Linked DNA regions of Homo sapiens: region 2 is linked to region 1. Evidence: fine-mapped expression QTL. A gene starts in region 1. The other region holds a variant in brackets. All regions are shown on one strand. Distances are from middle to middle.

Region 1 (12,829 bases):
GTAGGGGGTCGAAGGAACACTCAGTCAGAAGGGCTCATCTGCAAATGTATAAAGCTGAATTGATTCACGTTCTGGATTCTTCAGCTTGGGCTCTTGAATCTCCCCACCTGTCTTTCAGCTTCTCTTCTGTCTAAACAAATCTTTAGCCCTTGCTGAGGTTTTCTTCTTCCGACCTTTTTAGGGCTCTGTGCCCACACAGCCTCAGCCTCATTATGTTTAAACATCCAAATCCCATGATTTCTTTATTCACCTCTTATAATGTACACATATTCTGGGCTTATTTTTGACTGTTCACTGTATATTTATTTCATGTACTTGGATGATAGAATTCTAGAAGTGGAAAGAACCTTAGAAACAATCTAGGTGGGTGGGTGTGGTGGCTCACCCCTGTAATCCCAGCACTTTGGGAGGCCGAGGCGGGTGGATCACTTGAGGCCAGGAGTTCGAGACCAGCCTGGCCAACGTGGTGAAACCCCATCTCTACTAAAAACATAAAAATTAGCCAGGTTGGCCGGGCGCGGTGGCTCACGCCTGTAATCCCAGCACTTTGGGAGGCCGAGGCGGGTGGATCATGAGGTCAGGAGATCGAGACCATCCTGGCTAACAAGGTGAAACCCCGTCTCTACTAAAAATACAAAAAATTAGCCAGGCACGGTGGCGGGCGCCTGTAGTCCCAGCTACTCGGGAGGCTGAGGCAGGAGAATGGCGTGAACCCGGGAAGCGGAGCTTGCAGTGAGCCGAGATTGCGCCACTGCAGTCCGCAGTCTGGCCTGGGCGACAGAGCGAGACTCCGTCTCAAAAAAAAAAAAAAAAAAAAAAAAAAAAAATTAGCCAGGCATGGTAATGTGCGCTTGTAGTCCTAGCTACTCAGGAGGCTGAGGCACGAGAATTACTTGAATCCGGGAGGCAGAGGTTGCAGTGAGCTGAGATGGCACCACTGCACTCCAGCCTGGGCGAAAGAATTGAACCTAGGCCCAGGTGTCTTGTTCAGAGAAAAAGAAAAAAAAAACTAAGACCCAGAACAGCTTGAGAATCCAGAGCAGTTTAATAATAATTGTTGTTTTTTAGTTCTGTGGCTGCCTTACAGGATCATTGGTCTGGTAGCTCAGTCACTTTAGTGCCATATTCATAATGCTTTGACTTTAATCCCAGGAAACCGTGGCTGCCAGGCTTTCTGTTTCACTCTTGCGTCACACCCAGCTACTACCTGTAGACAAAGCCTTCTATGAAGCAGGCATTGCTGCCAAGGTGAGCTGGGACAAGGAAGGGTGGGGCAGATAGGAGGAAGTTAAAGGTTGGAAAATAGAATATCCCTTCTGCTCTGGTAGAGGAAAGCTGAGTGTAGGGCTGATGTTACGGAGGATGTAGTCCTCCTATGTCTTCCTGGATTTTTCTCCCTGGATCCCAGAGAAATAGCATTCAAGCCCAGCTTGCTCACTCCCATTTGCATCTGGATCCCAGAGAAGTAGCATTCAAACCCAGCTTGTTCACTCCCATTTGCAACTCTTCTTTGCTGCAGGCAGTTGGCTGGGATAACATGGCATTCATCTTCCTCAATCGCTTTTTGGACCTGACCGATGTGAGTAGGGAAGCTGTGCCCCGAGGGTGGAGGTTTTTGCCAGTCGCGAGCTGTGCCTAGTTCATGGTTGCCCACTCTACTGCAGGCAATCGAGGAAGGGACTCTAGATGGCCTTGACCACTCTGATTTTCAGGATACAGACATTCCCTTTGAGGTGCCACTCCCAGCTAAGCAGCATGTACCGGTAAGGGCACAGGGTTGGAAAACCGGAAGGCCTCACCAGTGTGAGTGCCTTGAGGAGGGAGAATATCTTTGTGCTGCCATCTTTGGAAGGACCTCAGCCCTCACTGTTTTTTCAGTGAAAGTAGAAGCAAAATAGAAAGAAAAGGCTGTGACTGCATCCCCCAATCCAAGGAGGATTCGTGGCTAAAAGCTGGTATACAGGATGAGGGCTTAGCAAACCCCCTCCTCACCCATCCACCCCAACTTGTCCTGCCCTGCCCTGTGTGAAGCTACCACTCCCTTCTTGTCCTTTCCAGGAGGCTGAGAGAGAAGAGGTTCGAGACTGGGTGCTTACAGTCTCCATGGACCAGCGGCTGGAGCAGGTTCTGCCTCGGGATGAGCGTGGCGCCTACGAGGCCTCCCTAGTGGCAGCGAGCACTGGTGTTCGAGCCCTGCCCTGCCTTATTACAGGTATAGAAGCCTACAGCACCCCAGATCCTGTGGTGGGTAGAAAGCAGCAGGATCAATAAACTTAATTTTACTAGGATTCAGTAAAGGGTACAAAAGACAGGACTGTGCTTTCTACCCCCCAGGCTGCTCCTCATTTTTCCCTCCTCAATCTCTCTCAAACCCCAGTTCATCATTTTTTCTTCCTCCACAGGATACCCCATTCTGAGGAACAAAATTGAATTTAAGCGGCCAGGGAAGGCTGCTAACAAGGACAACTGGAATAAATTCCTTATGGCCATCAAGGTTAGAGAGGAGGACTTGGAGAATGAAGGCAGAGAGGGCAGCACTAAAAAAAGAAAAAAAAACAAGTCTGGGTGCAGTGGCTCATACCTTTAATCCCAGCACTTTGGGAGGCCAAGGTGGGCGGATCACCTGAGGTCAGGAGTTTGAGACCAGCCTGGCCAACATGGTTAAAACCTCGTCTCTACTAAAAATACAAAAGTTAGCCGGGTCTGGTGGCGTGCACCTGTAATCCCAGCTACTCAGGAGGCTGAGGCAGGAGAATCGCTTAAACCCGAGAGGCAGAGGTTGCAGTGAGCTGAGATTGTGCCACTGCACTCCAGCCTGGGCGACAAAGCAAGACTTTGTCTCAAAACAAACAAAAAACCCACATACACACTAGAAAGATGGGTGGGATTACAGGAAGGCAGATGCAGACCCTGAAGCCTGCGATGGAGCTGATTTTGTATTTCCAGCATTAACAAGTTCCTCTCATGTTCTTCCATTTGCTCACAGACCTCCCACAGCCCAGTGTGCCAGGACGTGCTGAAATTCATCAGTCAGTGGTGTGGAGGGCTCCCCAGCACCAGCTTTTCCTTTCAGTAGTTGGTAGAGCTGAGGAAGAGTTAGGGCCTCTCCCTCATTAAAGTTTTATAAATAATTGAGACCACTGTATTCTTTGATCAAAGTCATTCCCAACACCACACAGTGCCTTTTCCCCAAAAGGAATCATAATCAAGTAGAAGAAAAGAGAAGTTACTTTATTACAATTTGTTATCTCATCCCGAGGTCAGGGCCCCTTGCTTAGTGGGAAAAAAAACCCTTTAGGACTGAGTCTCGGAACAGCACCTGCTGGACAGAGGGGAGAACCAACCCAGGTCAGAGGGGAAAGCAGCATGGCAAGACCTAGACCCAGTTCTAAGAGCACTTCCTTGTCCCCGCTCTTACCCGGGCCACCACCTTCAAGGCCCATTACCTGTCCTAAACCCAACTTCTCTGTGATGCCCGGATTTCTTGATTTTGATCCAGTAGCTGCTCATTTTCCTGCCTTTTACATTTAGGAGATTCAAGCTCTGTCATTTCCTCTAGCTGCAGAAGAAGATAGAGTTAGACACCCTCGCCCTGAATGATAGGTCAGCATCTTTTTTTTGTTTTGTTTTTTGTGACGGAGCCTCACTCTGTTGCCCAGGCTGGAGTGCAGTGGCGTGATCTCGGTTCACTGCAACCTCCGCCTTCCGGGTTCAAGCGATTCTCCTGCCTCAGCCTTCCAAGTAGCTGGGATTACAGGCGCCCACCACCCCACCTAATTTTTTGTATTTTTAGTAGAGACGAGGTTTCACCATGTTGTCCAAGCTGGTCTCAAACTCCTGACCTCAAGTGATCCGCCTGCCTCAGCCTCCCAAAGTGCTGGGATTACAGGTGTGAGCCTCCGCACCCGGCCGGTCAGCATCTTTTCAACACAGCCAGTCTCTGTGGAATGAACCCTTCCTGTTTGCCTTCCTTACCTGCCCCTGAAGTCCGTCCTTCCTGCAGGGCCCAACTCCACGTAGAGTGAGTGCAGCCACACAGCAGTAACCAGATAGAGCAGCCTCCCCTGCAGACATGAGCAAAGAAGGGATCCAGAGAGCCAAGGCTGTATCCTGAAAAGCAAGAAGGATGGGGAGTAGGAGGGAGTAGGGCAAGTGCAGCAAATAGGGGAAATTAAAAGGGCAGGACCAAGGCTTTGTAGACCACAAGAAGGAAGAGAATGTGCTCACATAGATTCTTGTGGGGTCAAAGGGGCAGTCAGTATGTCCCGGCCCCTCATCCAGTGGTACCAGAGGATCCAGCAGTCCTGGGTGGCAGTCAGCAATAAGGCGGCGGCCACCGTTGGCCACAGTGAGTGACACAGCAAGAAGGAGGCCCAGGGAGCAGGCAACGGACAAGAGCAGGTTCACCAGAGCTAGTGCCAGCAGGACCCAGTGCTGGCAGGGACAGGAGATCAGGGTGAGCAGCCTGGGCCTGGCTAACTCTCCCAGTGACTAGACACCCAGTTTCTCTGAGGCTCCTCCAATCTATTGAAAGACCAAGCTCAGTCAGCCCCCATTTCCCTGACTCAAGCCTACTCGTTAAAAGCTCCAGGGAAGTCCCTCTCACCAGTGGAGGGCGAAGAAGGTTCCTGGACGCCAGGAGGGCCACAAGTCCCACGGAAACGCTCTGTGGAAGACACAAAGCCTTTGGCCTGCTGGGCTCTCCGGGAGCCCGGCCCCCGCCCGGGTCGCCTGCCGCGCTCACCAGCAGCCCCGAGCCGACAGAGATGACATTGGCTACGGTGTACTCCGGCGTGACAGCGCCGCGGGGATTGGCCACGTGCCGCAGGACGGTGCCATGCAGCACGGCCCCCAGCAGCAGGTTCACGTGGCCCACCAAGATCAGCGCGAGGCCCACACGCATCAGCCGCCTGGGCCCCCGGGCGGCGTCTGCAAAGCACGGGGGAGGGCAGGGTTGAGTCGGGCGGGGAGGGGAGAGGCGGCTCGCGGCGGGTTAACCGCGGGCAGTAGGACGGGGCAAGGGTAGCCCCAGGGTAAGGAGACGAGACGCCAGGGCCCGGAAGTTACCGAAAGCGCAGAGACTGCAGCGCCTCATCCCGTCCGCCGCGCCAGCCGCAGGGCCGCTGTACCTGGGCCCGGCCCCGCCCCAACCTGGGCCCCGCCTCCGTCCCGGGTCCCCCTCCCACCTGGGCCCCGCCTCCGCCCCGGGCCCGCTCCCCCTGGCGGGAAAGGCGCGAACACACGACGCTTTTAGCAAAAAGTAGACTTTTATTACAGCAGCAACTGAGGCGAATCGAATGGCCCCCCAGGGCCACCACTGCAGCACCACCTTTCTCTCCCGCCCCGGCCGCCCCAGCGGGATTGTAGAATTCGGCTCCCCTAGTGCCCGTGGGCCTCCTTTCCACACAGGCTGGGCGGGAGCCGGCAGATCAGCGACTAGCCCCCAACTAGAAGGCGGCTGCTGAGAAGGCCCAGGCCCACGTCTGTGCAAAACAAGTAAACAAAGTGCAGAGGGGAGGAAGAGAGGGGAGGGGAAAGGATGATGCTCAGAACCAGGGAGCCCCCCCAGCCCTCCTGAATAATAAAGGAGGGAAGGGGCTTCACAGGGTAATACTGACTGGGGGGAAGGGACAGGAGGGCTGCAGCACGTCCAGGGACAGCCACAGCGCAGATCAGGGCCTGGCCCGAGTGAGCTCTAAGAGGAGACGGTGACAGCGGCTGAGTTGAGGGTACTGTTCCTGGCAAAATTGAACTTGTTCAAGGTCTCTTCTAGCAGAGAAGTCAACCGGCTCTGGTCAGCCTGGGGGAGAAGAGCTCAGTAAGATGGGGGCTGAGAGAAGAGAAGGCATGGGGGCAGCCAGGGCAGATGAAGGCAGAAACCTCACCTCACTAATGAAGCCCAGCTGCACCAGCTCAGCCGCCAACTCGGGGATATTCTCATCTGACAAAGAAACAGGAGGGGGTGAGTACAGTACGGGACTGAGGGACCTGGGGCCCTTCAGACAGCCCCACTAGGGCTAAACTGTCAGTCAGATCCACCCACTGCTTTAGGGTCTAAGATAGTCATTCTATGTGAGTCAATGTGTTACTGCCTTGTCACCTCCCCCACCCCTGAATATGTCCCTAAAAGATAAGGCTCATAGACTCTCCATCCTCTGAGGGAAAGGAGAGACTCACTTGGCATCAGGTCACAGCTCAGGTGCCGGTTCAGTTTGTCCTCCAACTTCAGCAGAAGTGTCAGCTGGAGAATAGGACAGTCAGAAAATGAGACTTTTCTTCCCTACCCTCTGGCTACTAGCCCTGCGCAACCCTAGCCCTGAGCCTTACGTGGTGTTTGACTCCCTCCTCCACCGACTCAATGTTGCACTGCATCAGCACCACCTAGGGAGGGAAGAGAGGGTCACTCTAGAGACCTGTCCATAAAAAACCCAATACCTAGACGTCTTTCGAGCCCATAGGGCATGGCTGCTAGGGAGCATTTTCTCTAAAGGATAGAGCCTTATTTGAGATGTCCTCTCTCCCTTCCACCACAACCATGGAGACAATCCACACCCACACAGCCCCCACCTTGCGAGTCTCCACCTCAGCTGGTTCAGGTGTCGGAGTCTTGACAGAGGGGGGCACGACAGGTGATGTCACCTCCTCCTGCTGTGGCTGCTGGGGCCGAGGCAGCCCAAAGGCTGTCAGAGGATAGATCCCATTCCTGGAGGGAGATGAAGACAGGTCACATGGGCTCTGTGAACGCCTTAGGATACCCAACCCCGCCTGCTTCCTCAAGAAAGCCTGCTTCTCACTCTGCTCTCACCTGACATCTTCAAGGAATTTATCTAATTCCAGAGCTGGTGACTGAGAGTACCTGGACGAGAAAAGAGAAAGGAGATGGAAGGAAAGAAACAAGCAAAATAGCAAATTCAAGCATTCCCAGAGAATGGACAGTTTACAGAGCCTCAAGAGTGGTCGTGACCAATCTGCCCCTTTCAGACCCTCTCAGTTACTCACAAAGTCTGAACTGGTTCTCTTCCTGGTCCTGCAGGGATTTCAGCCAGTACGGCACTAGTATCCATGTTTTTGGTGATCTCCTCTAGAGCGTTCTCTGGGATCATGTCTGGAGGGCATGATGGAGTGGGATATTATGAAGGGATAGTCAGATTAAATGTCAAAGAAGGCATGCAGGCAAAGGGGTAAAGAATCCCTTTGGAGGCCTGGCACAGTGGCTCATGCCTGTAATCCCAGCACTTTGGGAAGCCGAGGCGGACAGATCACTTGACGCCAGTTCAAGACCAGCCTGGCCAACATGGCGAAACCCCATCTCTACTAAAAGTACAAAAATTACCCAGGCATGGTGGCACATGCCTGTAATCCCAGCTCTTCGGGAGGCTAAGGCACAAGAATCGCTTGAGCCTGGGAGCTGGAGGTTGCAATGAGCTGAGATCAAGCCATTGCACTCCAGCCTGAGAGAGAGTGAGACTCTGTCTCAAAAAAAAAAAAAAAAAAAAAAAAAAAAAAAAAAAAGAATCCCTTTGGAAATAAAGAGGAAAACAAGCATGCCAGTGATAGTTACAGGGCTCCAGATTGGAAGACTATTCCCCATAGGGCCAAGACGACTCACGTTGGTGTCCCACAATGCAGTGGGCCGCAAGGAGTTTGAGCGAGGGCACTTCAAACAATGCTGGGTGGAACAGAAGTTCTCTGGCTGTTGGTCTGCGAGCAGGCTCAGACTGCAGGCACTTTTGAATGAACTCCTAGAAAAGGAAACAAGGAACTGGAGCAGGCATCTGGCAAGCCCCCAGTGTGTTCATCTTTATAGCTCTCATTCTACTTAGCACAAGGCTTTGTACATAGTAGGTGCTCAGCACTTGCTGAGAAAACAATATATTGAAAAATGCACCTGAAAGGGCTTCAAAAACTGTAAGATATTATATGAAAGATACCATCCACTGCCTTTCTGGTTTTAATTATTTTTCTGCTCTCCAACCACAAGCTTTCTTTTTTAATGTTCACAATTTTTTTTTTTTTTTTTTTTGAGACGGAGTCTCGCTCTGTCGCCCAGGCTGGAGTGCAGTGGCGCAATCTCAGCTCACTGCAACCTCTGCCTACCGGGTTCACGCCATTCTCCTGCCTCAGCCTCCCGAGTAGCTGGGACTACAGGTGCCCACCACCATGCCCGGCTAATTTTTTGTATTTTCAGTAGAGACGGTTTCACCATGTTAGCCAGGATGGTCTCAATCTCCTGACCTCGTGATCCACCCGCCTCAGCCTCCCAAAGTGCCGGTATTACAGGCATGAGACACCGCGCCCGGCCCCACACTTTCTTTTTCCTTAGTTTCTACCTCTCTGCTTTATTAGTCAACTCACTGCCTATCTTCTTTTCTAAATCTTGCCAAATTTAGCTTCTCTCTTCCCAAACTTACCCAATGTGATCAATATTCACCATTTTTTTATTTCACAAGCCTAGTATCACAATTTCCTTTGCCCACAATCACTGAATTCACCGAATTTCCCAGGATTCCTCTAACGATTCTGCCTTATTTTCTTTCTTTCTTTTTTCTGAGACAGGGTCTTGCTGTGCCAACCAGGCTGGAGTACAGTGGCACAATCACAGCTCACTGCTGCCTCAACCTCCTGGGCTCAAGCAATCCTCCCACTTCAGCTTCCAGAGTAGCTGGGACCACAGGCATGTGCCACCATACCCAGATAATTTTTATTTTTTCATAGAGATAGGGTTTTACCACGTTGCCCAGGCTAGTCTCGAACTCCTGAGCTCAAGTGATCCTCCCACCTCAGCCTCCAAAAGTGCTGGGATTAAAAGTATGAGCCACCATGTTCCACCACCGCCTCCTTTTCTACCTCCTGCATGTCCCATGACAATTAACCTGCTTTCCTGCTTTTAACCTTGAAGGCTAACAAGGTCACATACCTAATCTTTCACTTGAATACTCCACCTCAATGTTGAAGTAGAAACTTACTCCACACTATCCTCCTGACTTCCCACTAGTCTTCTTTTCTCTCCTGTTCCCTACTATACTTATCTAATGAGTTACAAACTGTTCTTGTTTGGACCTTCCTGCCCAGGCTCTGCTTACTATAGTCTATCAACTGATTCATAACCTTATGTCTTTTAAATCTTAGCTCATTATTTCAGGCCACCGTCCCTAACTAAAACTGTATAAATATAAAATCCCAAACAACTGGTTTAATTTAAATTGACTGATGTGCTTAAAAATATAAAAATGGCTGTCTGAGAGTATACAGCAATGGCCTGAAGTAACCATCAAATTAATTTACCTCCATGTAGACACATTCAAATTAACATACTTTTTTTTTTTTTTTGAGACAGTCTCGCTCTCTTGCCCCAGCTGGAGTGCAGTGGCCCAATCTCAGCTCACTGCAATCTCCGCCTCCCGGGTTCAAGCTTGCCTCAGCCTCCCGAGTAGGTGAGACTACAGGCACACACCACCATGCCCAGCTAATTTTTGTATTTTTAGTAGAGACAGGGTTTCACCATGTTGGCCAGGCTGGTCTCAAACTCCTGACCTCAAGTGATCCACCCGCCTCAGCCTCTCAAAGTGCTGGGATTACAGGTGTGAGCCACTGCACCCAGCCAACACACAACTTTTTTTTTTTTCTTTTTTTCTGAGACGGAGTCTACCTGTGTCGCCCAGGCTGGAGTGCAGTGGCGCGATCTCAGCTCACTGCAAGCTTTGCCTCCCGGGTTCATGCCATTCTCCTGCCTCAGCCTCCTGAGTAGCTGGGACTACAGGCTCCCGCCACCAAGCCTGGCTAATTTTTTTTGTATTTTTAGTAGAGACAGGGTTTCACCATGTTAGCCAGGATGGTCTCGATCCCCTGACCTCGTGATCCGCCCGCCTCGGCCTCCCAAAGTGCTGGGATTACAGGCGTGAGCCACCATGCCCGGCTTCCAACACACAACTTTTAACCCCAGCATCATCCATCTTAACCCCCTTACCTGTGTGTTTCTATGCAAAAACATGGTAGGCACCTCCTAAGAAAATGTTTATAGATTTTTCGTGTCCTTTCTGTTATGTTCCCTAGCTCTTAGGAGCATATACCCAGTGGGTACAAAGGAAGAAAAACCAGAAGACATTTGAAGGTCAGTTGAGGAGGGAGTGATCCTGAAGATCCTTACCCTCTGTAATGGGTCTTCTAGAAGCTGGATGGCACTGCTGATGGCTTCCTGTGGCACATATGAGGACTCTCCATTGCCCTGAATCTCCAGCACTGCCATCTTCAGTGAGGAAGAATAAAAAAAAAAGTAGACACCTAAGAACTTCAGTGCTCCCACAATCACTCCCTCCAAGCCAGCGCCTTACTTGTCTTCCCTCCATTCCCAATTCCATCTTCTCATCTGACCCCTTTCCCCCCTCCCCTCCAGTCCCCTCACCTCCAGTGCACACATGCCAAAGGAGTAGATGTCCACTGCTGTTGTCACATTAGTGACTTCTAGGGAAAACAGAGAAGGCTTTGGTTAATCAGAGGATTGGGGGCTAGGGTTGGCAGGAATGCCTTAGGAAAAAAAAAAAAGAAAAGAAAAATATTTTGTATGCTGGTAGAGAAGGCCTAGAAGTTTCAGTTATATTGCCTCTGTACCTCAAGTTATAAGGTGCAAAAGCAGGGGGATGAGGACAGGGCAGAGAAAGCAGGAAGGCTCACCTCCATACTCTGGTGCAAAGAAGTGTAGATTCTTCTGCTCTTCTCGACAAGTCTTCACATGATTGTTGATAGTGTCAGGAGCCACTGGGAGTAGGGGAGACACCCACAATCTGACCATCATCAATGAAGAATAGTCTCACTCCAGAGAGAGGCCCCAAAAGCCAAATTCTCTCCTGAAGTCTCCTTTCTGATGACCCTCAACAGGCACAAACATATTCCCTTTCCTGTCCTGAACTACAGACCACACATGGATGCCACCTACCTCCCCTTTCTTAGGCCTACTGCTTCTCATCTAATGTCCCTAAATCAGGAGCAACAAAAGCACCAGACTAAATTAACAGATACACAGGGGCTTCAGGCTGGTCTAGAAGCAATGAAGTTTAAGGAAAAATTTTCACTTGTACTGCGTTCACCTTCCCTAAATCCCAGGTACCTCTAATCCCTGCTCACATGAAAATATTTGGTTTTAGTTTTTTCATCCACCCTGCAAATAACATAAAAACACAGGCAGCCCTTCCTAATCTGGGACAATTGGAGACCTCAGGAACTTGGATAAATAAGGATAAGAAGTATTAACATACAGCTCAGGAGGTAGCCTCCTTCTTACCCACCTTTGCTGAGTGAAACTCAAAACAGCTCAGAATTGAGCTAATACCCTTGAATCTGTTCCACTTTTAATCCACCAAAACATTTTAGACTCCTGTTCTACCCCCTTATTCCTCAACACTGTCTGCCACAGAGCTGAACGAGGAACCAGGACCAGGCCCAATTTGGACTCACTCAGATCATAAACAATGACTACAAGTCACAGAGAATCTGGGAGCACAGTATGATCTGGGAACTAGCCTGATGATGAGGGAGAACATGAATCCAGGAGGTAAGTGGCCAGCCAGGCAGAATCCACAGGAAACAAGCAGGTTATGAAGGGGCAAGCAGGCGGAGGGCTGGCAGGGCAGAAGCTAAGCAGGCATAATTAGGCAGGGAAGATAGGGGAAGAGGGTTTGCTCCCACGACTGCATGCACTGGGCAGCCGCCAAGGGAGCAGAGGGAGCACAAACAGAGCCCCAAGTGGGGCAGAGGGAGCTCTCACCATTAGCAAAAATCCTATGAAAGACTGTTGGGAACAGAGCAGCCCGTAAGCGGGAGGGAGGAAAACAGAGAAAAGTTGTGAGCGATGGAGCAGCCAAGCCCCAGACAAATGGACACACAAATACCACACAGACACAGCACACAGAAATGTTGTACACTGCATACAATACACAGCAAACGAAAGCACTCACAGCAGGAACAGCCTGGAACCTCCTCTGGCAGGGTCTGGCCCCAGGACTCAAATCAAACCTCAAACCTATCTCTTGCCCTTTCCCAGCCTCTTATCAGTATCTCTGTATTAACCCCAATTTTCCCTTCAAAAAGGTGTAAGATTATATATCCTACCCCCTCTCCACTAATTAACTGGCCTCTCCTATTAATTACTCCTAGCAAGGTCCTTTCTCTTCTCACCAGCCCACACCTCAGAATTTTGCTCTGTTATCCCCCATTCCTTTCATCTTACCCCCATGGTTCCCAAATTCCCGAGGCTCCCCTGCCCAGAACCTCTCCCTCCCCTCACCAGAGCCAATCTTGATGAGTCCGTTGTGCTGGATGAAGATGGTGTCACAGGTCAGGTTCCCATGGATGATGGGGGGGTCACAGGAGTGCAGGTAGCTGTGGGGGCACTGGGCTGTTAGAGGGGCCACTGGGAAATTAAGGGCAGGGGGAACCCAAGGGTTAAGAGGAGCAAGGGCCAGGTCTCCTGCTGGTCACCATAAAGATAATCCCCACACTCTGAATCTCCATTATGCCTGATGATTTAAATAGCTGGATAAGCACTAGGAGAAAGAGGTAGGAGATAAGTGTCGTGGTTAGGGCATTAGGACGCACCCTTTAAAAGACCCGTAGGGGCCCTAATCTTGACAGTATATGATTCAAAGAAAGTGGGGAGAGGCAGAATAGAACAGAAGAGTAGTGCCCTGAAATCTGTTTGGAGTAACTACATCAGGAAATATGGGTAAGAAACTAACCAGGTACTACTTACCTTAGGGCAGAGAGGATTTGTGTGCACCAACGCTTCCATGCCTGGAACAAAGTTGGATCCAAGGGTCAGCAGTAATTCCCTCTC
Region 2 (16,283 bases), 44 kb after region 1:
TACAAGAATTAGCTGGGCATGGTGGCGCACGCCTGTAGTCCCAGCTACTCCGGAGGCTGAGGCAGGAGAATCGCTTGAACCTGGGAGGCGGAGGTTGCAGTGAGCCGAGATCGCACCACTGCACTCCAGCCTGGGCGACAGGGTGAGACTCCATCTTAAAAAAAAAAAAAAAAAAATGAGGTAGGTTGTGGAGGGGTGCCTGAAAAATTATAAGGTAAGGCCCTTGAGTTTTTGTTGGCTAAATAAGAAGTCAAATCTGAAAATAGATTCAGTTGATGTAGTCTTTTTTTTTTTTTTTTTTCTCCGAGACGGAGTCTTGCACTGTTGCCCAGGCTGGAGTATAATGGCATGATCTTGGCTCACTGCAACCTCTGCCTCCTGAGTTCAAGCGATTCTCCTGCCTCAGCTTCCCGAGTAGCTGGGATTACAGGCGCCTGCCACCATGCCCGGCTAATTTTTTGTATTTTCAATAGAGACAGGGTTTCACTATGTTGGCCGGGTTGGTCTCCAACTCCTGACCTCTTAATCCGCCCGCCTCGGCCTCCCAAAGTGCTGGCATTACAGGCGTGAGCCACCATGCCTGGCCCATCAGTTGATGTAGTCTTAAGGGGACAAGAGTACATTTAATATTTGGTTGTGAGGTTCTCTGGAAGTGACAAAACTGCTTTCTATGGAGAGTTAGGAATTTTTTTTTTTTTTGAAACGGAGTCTCGCATTGTCACCCGGGCTGGAGTGTAGTGGCTTGATCTCGGCTCACTGAAACTTCCGCCTCTTGGGTTCAAGTGATTCTCCTGCCTCAGCCTTCCAAATAGCTGGGATTACAGGAGTCTGCCACCAGGCCAGCTAATTTTTTTTTGTATTTTTAGTGGAGACAGGATTTCACTATGTTGGCCAGGCTGGTCTCAAGACTCCTGACGTTGTGATCCACCTGCCTCGGCCTCCCAAAGTGCTGGGATTACAGATGTGAGCTACCGTGCCCGGCCAGGAATTTTTTGTGCTATAAATCATATTTTCCTTTTATTAAAGGCAGTGTCAATATCTATAGTATAATTTTGAGGAGGCTGGCTATTTATTGCTGTGTAGAAGCTGGCTTATTAGTGGTCAAGGGGTCATCTAGAATTGACTATAAAGATAGTATTGAGCAGAAAATTCTTAAAATACCTGCATATTTGTTTCAGTCATTAAATTAATGGAAAAAATATAAAAAGAAATATCACAAGTATGCTATGGGGTTCTACCTTAGGGCATTGAAGGTTGAAAAACATTTATTTTCTTATCTTCAGATTAGCATCTCATATCAATAGCCAATAGCTTAAAGCGCTTTTTACTTACTAAACCAGGTCAGAATTTCTCTCTCTCTCTCTTTTTTTTTTTTAGACAGAGTCTCTGTCACCCAGTCTAGAGTGCAGTGGTGTGATCTCGGCTCACTGGCCTTTCTGTTTAAGTGATTCTCCGGCCTCAGCCTCCTGAGTAGCTGGGATTACAGGCATGTGCCACGACACTTGGCTTATTTTTTGTATTTTTAGTAGAGATGGGGTTTCTCTGTGTTGGTCAGGCAGGTCTTGAACTCCTGACCTCAGGTGATCTGCCCGCCTCCGCCTCCCAAAGTGCTGGGATTACAGACGTGAGCTACTGCGCCTGGCCAGAATTTCTTTGTCTAGAATGTGGTTAGCAACTTTTATAAAAACGCATTATTTGCATTTGATTAGCATGCAGTACCCATTCACAGTTCAAAGCTAGTATAGAATTATATCACATGTATGCCCATGAGCATGGAGAAACTATTTTCTTTTTATTTTTTTAAGTTGGAGTTTTGCTCTTGTTGCCCAGGCTGGAGTGCAATGGTGCCATCTCGGCTCACTGCAGCTTCTGCCTCCTGGGTTCTAGCAATTTGCCTACCCCAGCCTCCCAAGTAGCTGGGATTACAGGCACTCGCCACCATGCCCAGCTAACTTTTTTGTATTTTTAGTAGAGAAGGGGTTTTCCCATGCTGGCGAGTCTGGTCTTGAACTTCTGGCCTCAAGTGATCTGCCCGCCTCAGCCTCCCAAAGTGCTGGAATTACAGGCATGAGCCACTGTGCCCGGCCTTTTTATTTTTTAAATTATTTATGTATTTATTTTGAGACAGGATCTCACTCTTGCCCATGCTTGAGTGGTAAGGAGTATGGGATTTCTTGTGCCGGTTCCTTCACATCCTCACTACACTTATCTGCCTTTACAGTGGCTCGATCATAGTTCACTGCATAGCCTTCTGGGCTCAAGGGGTCTTCCAGCCTCAGCCTAATATAGGCACATGCCACCATGACTGGCTAATTTTTTTTTTTTAAGTTTTTTTTTGTAGAGATAGGGCCTTGCAGTGTTGCCCAGGCTGAGGAATTTTATTTATGTTTATTTTATTTATTTATTTATTTATTTATTTATTTATTTATTTATTTATTTATTGAGATGGAGTCTTACACTGTCACCCAGGCTGGAGTGCAGTTGCGCGGTCTCAGCTACTGCAAGCTCCGCCTCCCGGGTTCATGCCATTCTCCTGCCTCAGCCTCCCGCGTAGCTGGACTACAGGCGCCCGCCACCACGCCTGGCTAATTTTTTGTGTGTGTTTTTAGTAGAGGCGGGGTTTCACCATGTTAGCCAGGATGGTCTCGATTCCTGACCTCGTGATCCACCCACATCGGCCTCCCAAAGTGCTGGGATTACAGGTGTGAGCCACCATGCCTGGTCTAGAAATTATTTTATATTTTATACCATTGCCTTATAAGTTCTCAAGCAACTGGAAAATACAATCAGAACGTATTCCTCAAGATTTCAAGGATATTTTACACAAAGTTCTATTGTCTGATTCCTTAGCAGTTGTTACTACTGTTTCCCTAACCTCTAATCTTCTATTGGGTTATTAGTCTTAGAATTGAATTTTGAGAGGTAAGGGCTTGAATTTGAACATAGAAATTTATACAGGTCTGATCAGTAGTTCTTGACATTGTATTATCTGGAAACAAATCTTTAGAACTGAGCTTAAGATGTTTAATGACATTTTGTAGACAGAGTATGATTTCAGTGTAGTTGTTTTTGTTTCTTTCTAGATCTAGTTCAGAGATGAAGTATATCAACTTTTTTTTCCTTTTTGACCCAATGCTAGCAGAAAAACAACACCTTTTAATCATATTTAGTATTTGAAAATGTGTATACAGGTTCCTTTTTATTTTATTTATTTCTTACAGGTTCCTTTTTAATCAGCTTTATTGAGATAGAGTTCATATACTGTATGGTTCATACCACATATGGTTCATATACCATACAGTATATGAACTCACTTTAAGAGTATAATTCAGTGGGTTTAAGGGTATAATTCATTCATTTTAAGGGTATAATTCAGTGGCTTTTAGTATATTTTCTTTTTTTTCTTCTTTTTTTCTTTTTTCGAGACAGGGTCTTGCTCTGTTACCCAGGCTGGAGTGCAGTGACGCAGCCTCAGCTCACTGCAACCTCCACCTCCCAGGTTCAAGCGAATTCTCTTGCCTCAGCATCCTGAGTAGCTGGAACTACAGGCTCACGCCACCACACCCAGCTAATTTTTATATTTTCAGTAGAAACAGGGTTTCACCATGTTGCCCAGGCTGGTCTCGAACTCCTGGCCTCAAGTGATCTGCCTGCCTCAGCCTCCCAAAGTGCTGGGATTACAGGCATGAGCCACCGTGCCTGCCTGTTTTGTAGTGTATTCAAACAGAGTTGTACAACTGTCACCACAATCAGTTTTAGAACCCCAAAAAGAAACCCTGTACTCTTTACCAGTCACTCCCTATCTTCCGTCCACTAACCCCTGGCATCCACTAATTTACATGACCTCTATGAATTTGCCTATTCTGAACATTTTATAAATGGAATTCTAAATACACTACCTTTTATATCTGGATGCTTTTACTAAGCATGTGTATTTTTGAAATTGACTTTAAAGCTTGTTGGCCCCTGGAAGAGTAAATTACTCTCCACCCCAAGTATTCCCTCTACCCCTCAGCTTTGCCTGTAAGTTTCTTTTTAAAAAAATCACACATACATTGTTGTAGTAGATTTAAGAATAAGTATTTTGCTGACCCAAGGTTCTTTTGCTTCTTTCTAGATCAGTGCCTTGCAGGTTTTATTTTACAGAGCTTAATAGAATCAGAAATCTCTTTAAAACTCCAGTCTCATATCCAGTTATCACTCACCATCTCTGTGTTTGCAGCAATAGCCAGGCCTGGCCCAGAGGGACTTGATCTCCACTTTTGGTTTTTAGACTTTTCTGTGGCTTTTACCACCTGCTGTGTATCCTTGACCTCATACTGCTGGACTCCTTTGGATGGATACCAGCAGGATGGTTCAGGCTCCAGTGGGCACTTTTTAAAATTCTCTCCTTCTGTTCAGATAGACAGAGCTCAGGCAGATCACCAAGTCTGTTGCCTGTGTAACCAGGAAAGAGATGCTAGTTTTCTTTTAGGCACTCCCATTTGTTTCTGTTGGAACCTTCCTCACTTAGTTGATGGAAGGGAAGCAAAAGACCCAGAACTCCATCTCAAATTAATGACTTAACAATTCTTGAATTTTCTCTTATCTCCTAGTTAACTCTTTTTCTTATCTCCAGGAGGTCAGTTTTAATTATTGTTGTTTATTCATTTATTTTCATGGAGACAGGGTCTTACTGTGTTGTCCAGGCTGGCCTTGAACCCCTGGCCTCAAGGAATCTTTTCACCTCAGCCTCCCAAAGTGCTGGAATTACAGGCATGAGTCACCACACCCAGCCTGATATTTTTCAGTTGATGTATCATAGTTGTGCCTAAGCATAATTTTTTAATTTTAATTTTTTATTTTTGGGGACAGGGTCTCCCTCTGTCGCCCAGGCTGGAGTGCAGTGATGCGATCTCAGCTCACTGCAACCTCCACCTTCTGGGTTAAAGCGATTCTCCTGCCTCAGCCTCCCGAGTAGCTGGGACTACAGGTACCCACCATCACACCCGGCTAAATTTTTTGTGTGTATTTTAGTAGAGACGAGATTTCGCTGTGTTGCCCAGGGCGGTCTCGAACTCCTGAGCTCAGGCAATCCGCCTGCCTCGGCCTCCCAAAGTGCTGGGATTACAGGCATGAACCACCACGCCCGGCCAAGCGTAATATTTTTAAGGGTCATCAATGTTGTGTCATGAATCAATCAGTGTTTCGTTCTTTTTTATGGTTGAATAATATTCCATGGTATGGATTTGTCACATTTTGTTTATCCATTCATTAGTTGATAGACATTTTGGATTTCCACTTTTTTTTTTTTTTTTTGCTATTATAAATAGTGATACTATGTACAAATTTTTGTGTGGAAATATGTCCTCATATCTCTTGGTTATATACCAAAGAGTGGAAGTGCTGGGTCATATGGTAACTACGTGTTTAACATTTTGAGAAACTGCTAAACTGTTTTCCAAAGTTGCTGTACCGTCGTACATTCCTGCCAGCAATATATGAGGATGCCAGTTCCTTCACATGTTCACTACACTTATCCACCTTTTTTATAATAACTAATGGTGGGTGTGAGATGGTATCTCATTGTAGTTTTGATTTGTATTTCTCTGATGGCTAAATGGCTAATGATGTTTGAACTTTTTGTTTGAGACAGAATCTCACTCTGTCCAGATTCAAGCGATTCTCCTGCCTCAGCCTCCCTAGCAGCTGGGATTACAGGCACATGCCACCACACCCAGCTAATTTTTTGTATTTCTAGTAGAGACAGGGCATTACCATGTTGTTCAGGCTGGTGTCGAACTCCTGACCTCAAAGGATCCGCCTCCCTGGGCCTCCCAAAGTGCTGGATTACAGGCTAGAGCCACCATGCCAGGCCTTATGTTTGAACATCTTTTATGTGCTTATTGGACATTTGTGTATCTTCTTTGGAGAAATGTCTGTTCAAAGTCTTTGTCCATTTTTAATTGGATTGTCTTTTTGTCTTTTGATGTGTAAGAGTTCTTTATGTGTTTTGGATACAAGTTTGTTAGATATATGATTTGCAAATCTTTTCTCCAATTTTTGTGGACTTTTGCTTTCTTTTTTTGTTTTGTTTTTGTTGTTGTTGTTGTTGTTGTTGTTTTGGTCGGGGGACAGTCTTGCTCTGACCACCCAGGCTGGAATGGAGTGGCGCGATCTTGGTTCACTGCAACCTCTGCCTCCTGAGTTCAAGCTATCCTGCTTCAGCCTCCCGAGTAGCTGGGACCCAGGTGTGTGCCACCACTCCCAGCTAATTTTTTATTTTTAGTAGAGACCGGGTTTCACCATGTTGGCCAGGCTGGTCTTGAACTACTGACCTCAGGTGATCTGCCTGCCTCAGCCTCCCAAAGTGCTGGGATTACAGTCATGAGCCACTACACCCTGATTCTTTTTGCTGGCTTTCTTTCTTTTTTTTTCTTTTTTTTTTTGAGACGGAGTCTCGCTCTGTTGCCAGGCTGGAGTGCAGTGGCATGATCTCGGCTCACTGCAACCTCTGCCTCCCGGGTTCAAGCCATTCTCCTGCCTCAGCCTCCCGAGTAGCTAGGACTATAGGCACATGCCACCATGCGCAGCTAATTTTTGTATTTTTAGTAGAGACGGGGTTTCACCATGTTGGCCAGGATAGTCTCGATCTCTTGACCTCGTGATCCGTCCGCCTGGGCCTCCCAAAGTGCTAGGATTACAGACGTGAGCCACCACACTCAGCCTCTTTTTGCTTTCTTGATGGTGTCTTTTGAAACAAAAGTTTTTACTTTTGATAAAGTCCAATTTGTCTATTTTGTTTGTTTGTTTTTGTTAAGAAGCTTTGCCTAACCCAAAGTCACGAGAATTTTCTCTTAGGTTTTCTTCTAAGAGTTTTATAGTTTTAGCTGTTTCTGTGATCCATTTTGAGTGAATTTTTGTGAATGGTATGAGGGAGTGATCCAACTTCATTCTTTTGTGTGTGGATATCAAGTTGTCCCAGCACTATTTGTTTAAACCACTGTTCTTTTCCCCCATTGAATTATCTTGGCATCATTGTCAGAGATAAATTGACCGTAAATGTGAGGGTTTTATTTCTGAACTCTCAAGTCCATTTCATTGGTCTACATGTCCCTATGCCAGTAATACACTATCTTGGTTACTGTAGCTTTTTAGTACGTTTTGAAATGTTTTTAAAATTTGTTTTTCATCTAAATTTTAGGATTAATTTGTCAATTTCTGCACAAAAGGCACCTGGGTTTCTATAGGGGTTATGCAGAATCTGTAGATCAACTGGGGGAGTATTACAGGCATGAGCCACCGTGCC[T/C]GGCTGACTGAGTTTTTCATAGATGTACTCTATCAGGTTTAGGAAGTTCCCTTTTATTCCTAGGTTGTTGAGTCTATTTTATATTACTTTTTTAGAGACAGTCTTGCTCTGTCCCTCAGGCTGTAGCACAGTGGCTCAATCATAGCTCACTGCAGCCTTGAACTCCTAGGTTCAAGAGATCCGCCTGCCTCAGCCTTCTTAGTAGCTGGGATTACATGCATGCACCACCATACTGGGCTAATTTTTTAAAATTTTTTATAGAGACAGGGTCTTATTACTATGTTGCCCAGACTGGCATTGAGTCTTTTTATCATTAATGAGCACTGAATTTTGTCAAGTGCCTTTATAATACCTATTGTGATGATCATAGGGTTTTGTTCTTTAGTCTACCGATACGCTATATTGCATTAAGTGATTTTTTTGAATGTTAAACCAACCTTGCATTTTTTTGGTGTATAAGTCTTATTTGATCAATGTGTATTATCCTTTTATATGGTGCTGGATTTAGTTTGCTACTATTTTGTTGAGGATTTTTGTGTCTATATTCATAAGAGATATTGGTCTGTAGTTTCTTGTGATGTCTTTGTCTGGTTTTAGAATCAGGGTAATGCTGGCCTCATAGAATGAATTGGGAAGTGTTGTCTTCTTTTCTATGTGATGGGAGAGTTTGTGAATCATTGGTATTAATTTTTCTGTAAATGTTTGGTAGAATTCACAAATAAAGGCATCTGAGCCTGGGCTCTTCTTTGTGGGAAGTTTTTGGCTTTTTTTTTCTTTAAAAATTTTCATTGTGGCTGGGCATGGTGGCTCACGCCTGTAATCCCAGCACTTTGGGGGGCCAAGACGGGTGAATCACCTGAGGTCGGGAGTTTGAGACCAGCCTGAGCAACGTGGAGAAACCCCATCTCTACTAAAAATACAAAATTAGCTGGGCATGATGGTGCATGCATGTAATCTCAGCTAATTGGAAGGCTGAGGAGGGAGAATCACTTGAACCACGGAGGCAGAGGTTGCAGTGAGCCTAGATCGTGCCATTGTACTCCAGCCTGGGCAACAAGAGCAAAACTCTGTTTCAAGGGAAACAAAGTTTTCATAACATAAAAATTACCATCTTAGTCATTTCTTTTCTTTTTTTTTTTTTGTTGGAGACGGAGTCTTGCTCTGTCACCTATGCTGGAGTGCAATGATTGCAGTCTTGGCTCACTGCAACCTCTGCCACCTGGGCTCAAGAGATTCTCCTGCCTCAGCCTCCTGAGTAGCTGGGATTACAGGCATGCGCCACCATGCCCAGTTAATTTTTGTATTTTTAGTAGAGACGGGGTTTCTCCATGTTGACCAGGCTGGTCTCTAACTCCTCACCTCAAGTGATCCGCCCGCCTCGGCCTCCCAAAGTGCTGGGATTACAGGCATGAGCCACCACGCCCGGCCTTAAAAATTTTTTTAATGTACAGTTGAGTAGTATTTAATACATTCACATTGTTGTGTACCCAGTTTCCAGAACTCTTCATCCTACAGAACTGAAACTCCATACCCATTAAATGAGTCCCCATTCTCTTTCCCCCAGCTCATGGCAAACAGCATTCTATTTTCAGTCTCTATGAATTTGATTAGTTTAGATACTTCATACTGTAAGTGGAATCATATGGTATTTGTCTTTTAGTGACTGCCTAATTTAAAAAAAATTTTTTTGAGACGGAGTCCTGCTCTGTCGCCCAGGCTGGAGTGCAGTGGCACCATCTCTGCTCACTGCAACCTCCACCTCCCAGGTTCAAGTGATTGTCCTGCCTCGGCCTCCCACGTAGCTGGGATTACAGGTGCTCGCCACAACACCCGGCTAATTTTTGTATTTTTAGGTAGAGACTGGGTTTCACCATGTTGGCCAGGCTGGTCTCGAACTCCTGACCTCAAATTATCCACCTGCCTTGGCCTCCCAAAGTGCTGGGATTACAGGCGTGAGCCACTGTGCCCAGCCTCCATGTTGTTTTTCACAACACCTGTATCATTTACATTTCCACCAACAGTACACAAGAATTTCAGTTTCTCCACATCCTTGCTAGCAGTTGTTATTATCTGTTTTTTTTTAATGGTTTCTTTTTTCCTTTTTCTTTTTTTTTTTTTTTGAGACGGTCTTATTCTTGCTCATGCTGGAGTGCAGTGGTGCAATGTGATAGCTCACTGCAGCCTCAACCTCTGGGCTCAAGCAGTCCTGCCACCTCAGCCTCCACATAGGTGGGACTGCAGGTGTGCACCACCACTTGTGGCTAATTTAAAAAATTTTTTCGTAGAGACAGAGTCTCACAGTGTTACCCAGGCTGGTCTTGAACTTCTGAGCACAAGTGATCCTCCCACCTCAGCCTCCCAAAATAATGAGATTAGAGACATGAGCCAACATGCCCAACCAGTTTTGTTTGTTTGTTTTGTTTTGTGTTTTTGAGACAGAGTCTCACTCTATTGCCCAGGCTGGAGTGCAGCGGCATGATCTCAGCTCACTGCAACCTCCGCCTCCCAGGTTCAAGTGATTCTCATGCCCCAGCCTCCTGAGAAGCTGGGATTACAGGTGTACCACCACACCCAGTTATTTTTGTATTTTTAGTAGACATGGGGTTTTGCCATGTTGGCCAGGCTGGTCCCGAACTCCTGACCTCAAGTGATCTGCTCCCCTCAGCCTCCCAAGGTGCTAGAATTAAGTTTTTCTTTCTTTCTTTCTTTCTTTTTTTTTTTTTTTTTGAGACAGAGTCTCACTCTGTCACCCAGGCAGGAGTGCAATGGCACGGTCTTGGCTCATTGTAACCTCTGCCTCCCAGATTCAAGTAGTGATTCTCCTGTCTCAGCCTCCCAAGTAGCTGGGATTACAGGCATGCACCACCACGCCCAGCTAATTTTTTGTATTTTTAGTAGAAACGGGGTTTCACCATGTTGGTCAGGCTGATCTCAAACTCCTGACCCCAAGTGATCCACCCGCCTTGGCCTCCCAAAGTGTTGGGATTACAGGCGTGAGCCACTGTGCCTGGTTTTATTTTTATTATTATTATTTTTAATAGTTCCTATTCTAATGGGTATGAGGTAGTGAGGTGGGTGGTTGTGGTGTTTTTATGAATGTTTAATTGGAAATGGGTGGCCATTGTGTGCAGGAAAAACCTCCTAAATTGTGTCAAACTCCTGGAAAATGAAATATCATTCCAGTTGCAAGAATATCTTTTTTTTTTTTTTTTTTTTTTTAAGACAGAGTCTCACTCTGTCACCAGGCGGGAGTGCAGTGGCACGATCTCGGCTCACTGCAACCTCCGCCTCCTGGTCCGCCTCCCGGGTTCAAGTGATTCTTCTGCCTTAGCCTCCCAAGTAGCTGGGACTACAGGCGCGTGCCACCACTCCTGGCTAATTTTTTTGTATTTTTAGTAGAGATGGGGTTTCACCATGTTGGCCAGGATGGTCTCAATCTCTTGACCTAGAGATCCGCCTGCCTCGGCCTCCCAAAGTGGTGGGATTACAGGGGGGTCACCGTGCCCAGCCACAAGAAGATCTTGAGCATGTGAATGATCAGAAATGATTTAGCCTATGTAGGCACTAGGCCAGGTAGTGAAATTCAGGGAAAATAATTCAGATGCTTCTGAGCTATCACTTATGAACTAAGAAACAGCTTAAAGCCATTATAGTGTGTTTCCTGAAGATGAAAGCATATGGTAAGATGAAATAGTGATTATTTTTTAAAAATTACTACTCCAGAAAGGAAAAGTTTACTAATTTTTATTACTAAAGTTTACTGTTGGTGGGTGCGGTGGCTCACACCTGTAATCCCAGCACTTTGGGAGGCCGAGGCAGGCGGATCACCTGAGGTCAGGAGTTCGAGACCAGCCTGACCAATATGGTGAAACCCCATCTCTGCTAAAAATAAAAAATTAGGCCGGGCGCGGTGGCTCATGCCTGTAATCCCAGCACTTTGGGAGGCCGAGGCAGGTGGATCACGAGGTCAGGAGATTGAGACCATCCTGGCTAACACGGTGAAACCCCGTCTCTGCTAAAAATACAAAAATCAGCCGAGCGTCTTGGCAGGCACCTGTAGTCCCAGGTACTCAGGAGTTTTGAGACGGGAGAATGGCGTGAACCCGGAAGGCGGAGCTTGAAGTGAGCCGAGATTGCGCCGCTTCAGTCCAGCCTGGACGACAGAGTGAGACTCTGTCTCTAAAAAAATAAATAAATAAAAATAAAAAATTAGCTGGGTGTGGTGGCACGCACCTGTACTCCCAGCTACTCGGGAGGCTGAGGCAGGAGAATTGCTTGAACCCGGGAGATGGAGGTTGCGGGGAGCCAAGATTGCGCCACTGCACTCCAGCCTGGCGACAGAGTGAGACTCTTTCTCAGAAAAAAATATGATAATTAAAAGTTGAGACGTTCTTCGCCGAGAGTGGTCGGGGTTTCCTGCTTCAACAGTGCTTGGACGGAACCCGGCGCTCGTCCTGCACCCCGGCCGGCCGCCCATAGCCAGCCCTCCGTCACCTCTTCACCATGCCCTCGGACTGCCCCAAGGCCCCCGCCGCAGCTCCAGCGCCGCGTAGCCACCACTGCCGCTGCCGCCGCCTCTCCTTAGTCGCCGGCATGACGACCGCGTCTACCTCGCAGGTGCGCCAGAACTACCACCAAGACTCAGAGGCCGCCATCAACCGCCAGATCAACCTGGAGCTCTACGCCTCCTCCATTTACCTGTGCGTGGCTTACTACTTTGACAGCGATGATGTGGCTTTGAAGAACTTTGCCAAATACTTTCTTCACCAATCTCATGAGGAGAGGGAACATGCTGAGAAATTGATGAAGCTGTAGAACCAACGAGGTGGCCGAATCTTCCTTCAGGATATCAAGAAACCAGACTGTGCGGGGAGAATGCGATGGGAGAGCGGGCTGAATGCGATGGATTACATTTGGAAAAAATTGTGCATTTTGCATTACATTTGGAAAAAAATGTGAATCAGTCACTACTGGAACTGCACAAACTGGCCACTGACAAAAATGACCCCCATTTGTGTGACTTCATTGAGACACATTACCTGAATGAACAAGTGAAGGCCATCAAAGAATTGGGTGACCACGTGACCAACATGCACGAGATGGGAGCGCCCGAATCTGGCGTGGCAGAATACCTCTTTGACAAGCACACCCTGGGAGACAGTGATAATGAAAGCTAAGCCTCAGGCTAATTTCCCCATAGCCATAGGGTGACTTACCTTGTCACCAAGGCAGCGCATGTATGTTGGGGTTTCCTTTACCTTTTCTATAAGTTGTTCCAAGACACCCACTTAAGTTCTTTGATTTGTACCATTCCTTCAAATAAATAAATTTGGTACCCTCCCCCCCCCCAAAAAAAAAATGTACTGTGGGCTGGCGTAGTGGCTCATGCCTAAATCTCAGCACTTTGGGAGGCTGAGGCGGGAGGATCACCTGAGGTCGGGAGTTTGAGACCAGCCTGGGCAACATGGTGAAACCCCGTGTCTACTAAAAATATAAAAACTAGCCAGTCATGGTGGCACACACCTGTAATCCCGGCTACTTGGGAGGCTGAGGCATGAGAATCACTTGAACCTGGGCTGCGGAGGTTGTAGTAAGCTGAGATCATGCCACTGTACTCCAGCCTGGGTGACAGGGAGACATTCTCTCTCTCAAAAAAAAAAAAAAAAAAAAAAAACAAAACAAACCAACAAAACAAAGTAATCCAGGAACAACAACATGATGAAGGACTGCATGCAGGACTCAGTGATGGATGGTGGAAGACAGCCAGGAAGTTAAGCATGACTCTGGTATTAAGTGTTGTCTGGGAGAGTTAAGATTCCATTTACAGAAATAAGACCTGTAGGGGAAGCTCTTGATTTTTTTTTTTTTGCAGACTGCTGATTTCCTGATTACATGTGTTAAGTTTGAGGTATAGAGAGAAAGAACATCCTGGCCGGGTGCAGTGGCTCACACCCGTAATCCCAGCACTTTGGGAGGCCAAGGTGGGCAGATCACGAGGTCCAGGAGATCGAGACCATCCTGGCCAACATGGTGAAACCCCGTCTCTACTAAAAATACAAAAATTAGCTGGGCGTGGCGGCGCGTGCCTGTTATCCCAGCTACTCAGGAGGCTGAGGCAGGAGAATTGCTTGAACCCGAGAGGCAGAGGTTGTGATGAGCCGAGATCGCGCCACTGCACTCCACCCTGGCAACAGAGCTAGACTCTGTCTCAAAAAAAAAAAAAAGAAAGAAAAAAAGAACATCCTGTAGAAACAGGCAGTCAGAGGTATAGAACTACACAGAATCCAAGAGATCTTTCAAGAAAAGTGACATGCAGCAAGAGAAACTATCAAGGGGGTAAACAACCTATAGAATGGGAGAAAATATTCACAAAGTATACATCCAACAAAAGTCTAATATCCAAAATCTATAAGGAACCTAACAAGCAAAAAGCAAATAACCCCCTTAAAAAGTGGGCAAAGGACATGAACAGATACTTCTCAAAAGACGTACATGTGGCCCACAAACATGAAAAAACGCCCATTTCTAATCATCAGACAAATGCAAATTAGAACCACAAAGAGATACCATCTCACACCAGTCAGAACAGCTTTTGTTAAAATGTCAAAAAATGAGAAACGTTGGTGAGGCTGCAGAGGAAAGCAGACACTTGTACACTGTTGGTGAAGGTGTAAATTAATTTAGCGTAGGCACAGTCAGTTTGGAGATTTCTCAGAGAACTAAGAGTGGAACTACCATTAGACCCAGCAATCTGATGGCTGGATATACGGCCAAAGGAAAATAAATCATTCTGCCAAAAGAACATATGTACCTGTATGTTCATTGTGGCACCATTCACAATAGCAAAAACATTGAATCAACTCATGTGCCCATCAGTGGCGGACTAGAAAAGAAAAGAAAATATGGTACATAGCCATCATGGAATACTATGCACCCATTAAAAATAATGAAATAATGTCTTTGCAACAACATGAATGTAGCTGGAGGGCATTATCCTAAGCAAACTAACACAGAAACAGAAAACCAAATACTGCGTGTTCTCACGCAGTGAGAGTGGGAGCTGAACATCAAGTACACATGGATGTAAAGATGGCAACAATAGACATGGGTCTACTAGAGGTGGTGGTGCGGCAGGGTGGGGGTGGGGGTTGTGTGGCAGAGGAACAGCTGAAAAACTACCTATTTGATACTATACCCAGCACCTGGGAAACGGGTTCAGTCATACCCCAAACCTCAGCATCACACAGTATACCTTTCTAACAAACTTACACATGTATTCTGTGATTCTAAAATAAACATTGAAAAATAAAAAAAAAACTGACATGGTTTGTACTGTTTAATCTGACATAATGGCTAGGGGAAATGAAGTCTGCAGAATGGCTGTTTACGGATGTTGTTGTTGTTGTTGAGATGAGGTCTCACTATGTTGCCCAGGCTTGAACTCCTGGCCTCAAGCAGTCCTCCTGCCTTGACCTCCCAAAATGTTGAGATTACATGCATGAGCCATTGCCAAAACGGCTATTTGGATTGCTGTTAAGGTTATTACATTCTCTGTGTAGTAAGACCTTGAAGGAGAAGGATTTGAGATCAGGAGTTTAAGAAAAAATGTTAATCTAGGAAGAGAGGATAATTTCTGTGTTTGGCCAGTTGCAATGGCTCACGCCTGTAATCCCAGCGTTTTGGGAGGCCGAGCTGGGCAGATCACTTGAGCTCAGGAGTTTGAGAAGAGCCTGGGCAACATGGTGAAGCCCCGTCTCTACTGAAAATACAAAAATTGGCTGGGCGTGGTGGCAGGTGCCCACTGTAATTTCAGCCACTCAGGAGACTGAGGCAGGAGAATTGCTTGAACCTGGAAAGTGGAGGATATGGTGAGCCTAGATCGCGCCACTCTACTCCAGCCTGGGAGACTCCATCTCAAAAAAAAAAGAAAACAAGATGCTGAAATGAAGTAATTACCACAGTCAATGTGATCCTATAACTTTGTTTTGTTTTAGAGATGGGGTCTCCCTCTGTCACCCAGGCTGGAGTGCAGTGGTGCATCATAGCTTTCTGCAGCCTCCACCTCCTGGGCTCAGGTGGTCCTCTTGCCTCAGTGTTCCGAGTAGTTAGGACTGACTGCAGGTGCATGCTGCTATGCCTGGCTAACTTTAAAATTTTTTTGTAGAGGCGGGGTCTTGCTATGTTGCCTAGGCTGGTCTCCAACTCCTGATCTCAATCAGTCCTCCTGCCTACCTTCCCAGAGCGCTGGGATTACAGGTGTGAGCCATCGCACCTAGCCAATCTCATAACATTTTATGACTAGCAAACTTAGTAGTTCTGATTCAGGCATAAATCAGTTGGTGGGGTTATACAAGGTTGGGTGAGTTTTTCTAGATTTCTAAGAGACCATGTTGAAATACTTGGCTCTGTCTCAGTAAGGGATAGAGAGAAGCAAAGGTGTGGGTAAAGGTTATGAGCAGACATGTAAAGGGGGCAAATTAAAGTGTTTAGGGAAGGTGAAACAGTTCCAAATCATAATATAGATCCCAAGCCTCACCAAGAAGTGAAGGAGAGGGTAATTGTGCGATAGTTCTCAGGACTGAGACCTCAAGGTGTAAGACGAATCTTTATTGTGGGTGGTCCTCTTTGAGAAAAAGAACAAAAAAGAAAAATGTGAAATGGGTGCTAAATTTCAGAGCAGAATATACATATATGTGTATGTGTGTGTGTATATATATATATATTTTTATGTAGCAAATTCCAGTTTACAAAGGGCTTTTATGTGTTTTGCATCATTACAACAGTTCTGTGATGATGTGGATGTGGTGGATATTGTAATTCCACATCACAGAGGATAAAATTGAGGCACACCATAAGGTAGCTGACCAGAGATCATGCAGTATATGGTAGAATGGCAACTTGAGGCCAGTTCTTAGGTGTGTTTGTTGTCCTTATTCAGAATGGAACAATGTGGTTTATTGTACAAAAATTTAAAAATGAATGTCGAAAAGTAGAA

The links. PIP is the estimated chance that this variant, and not a neighbour inherited with it, causes the effect.
Region 2: its variant is fine-mapped to the expression of KRTCAP3 in whole blood (INTERVAL, PIP 0.96).

Annotation. Positions count from the first base shown.
Region 1 is chr2:27,434,679-27,447,507 of GRCh38, reverse strand. It overlaps KRTCAP3 (keratinocyte associated protein 3), which reads right to left and starts at 5,127. Exons shown (of 7, transcript NM_173853.4): 1 at 5,068-5,127; 2 at 4,745-4,929; 3 at 4,607-4,666; 4 at 4,228-4,434; 5 at 3,976-4,110; 6 at 3,447-3,559; 7 at 3,211-3,322. The coding sequence starts at 5,095. The coding sequence ends at 3,452. It overlaps NRBP1 (nuclear receptor binding protein 1), which reads right to left. Exons shown (of 18, transcript NM_013392.4): 6 at 12,746-12,786; 7 at 12,281-12,375; 8 at 10,672-10,755; 9 at 10,403-10,461; 10 at 10,148-10,246; 11 at 7,610-7,742; 12 at 7,000-7,105; 13 at 6,806-6,856; 14 at 6,568-6,703; 15 at 6,328-6,381; 16 at 6,178-6,241; 17 at 5,886-5,941; 18 at 5,249-5,800. The coding sequence ends at 5,696. IFT172 (intraflagellar transport 172) reads left to right here. Exons shown (of 48, transcript NM_015662.3): 43 at 1,153-1,248; 44 at 1,520-1,579; 45 at 1,665-1,763; 46 at 2,059-2,212; 47 at 2,403-2,494; 48 at 2,987-3,131. The coding sequence ends at 3,076. RefSeq lists an enhancer at 4,450-4,992.
Region 2 is chr2:27,388,966-27,405,248 of GRCh38, reverse strand. All of the region lies in intron 1 of PPM1G (protein phosphatase, Mg2+/Mn2+ dependent 1G), which reads left to right. It also overlaps the pseudogene FTH1P3. Among named protein-coding and RNA genes, the nearest start is that of PPM1G, 12 kb to the left of the region's middle. RefSeq lists an enhancer at 9,444-9,945. The variant T/C (reference allele first, on the strand shown) is at 7,289.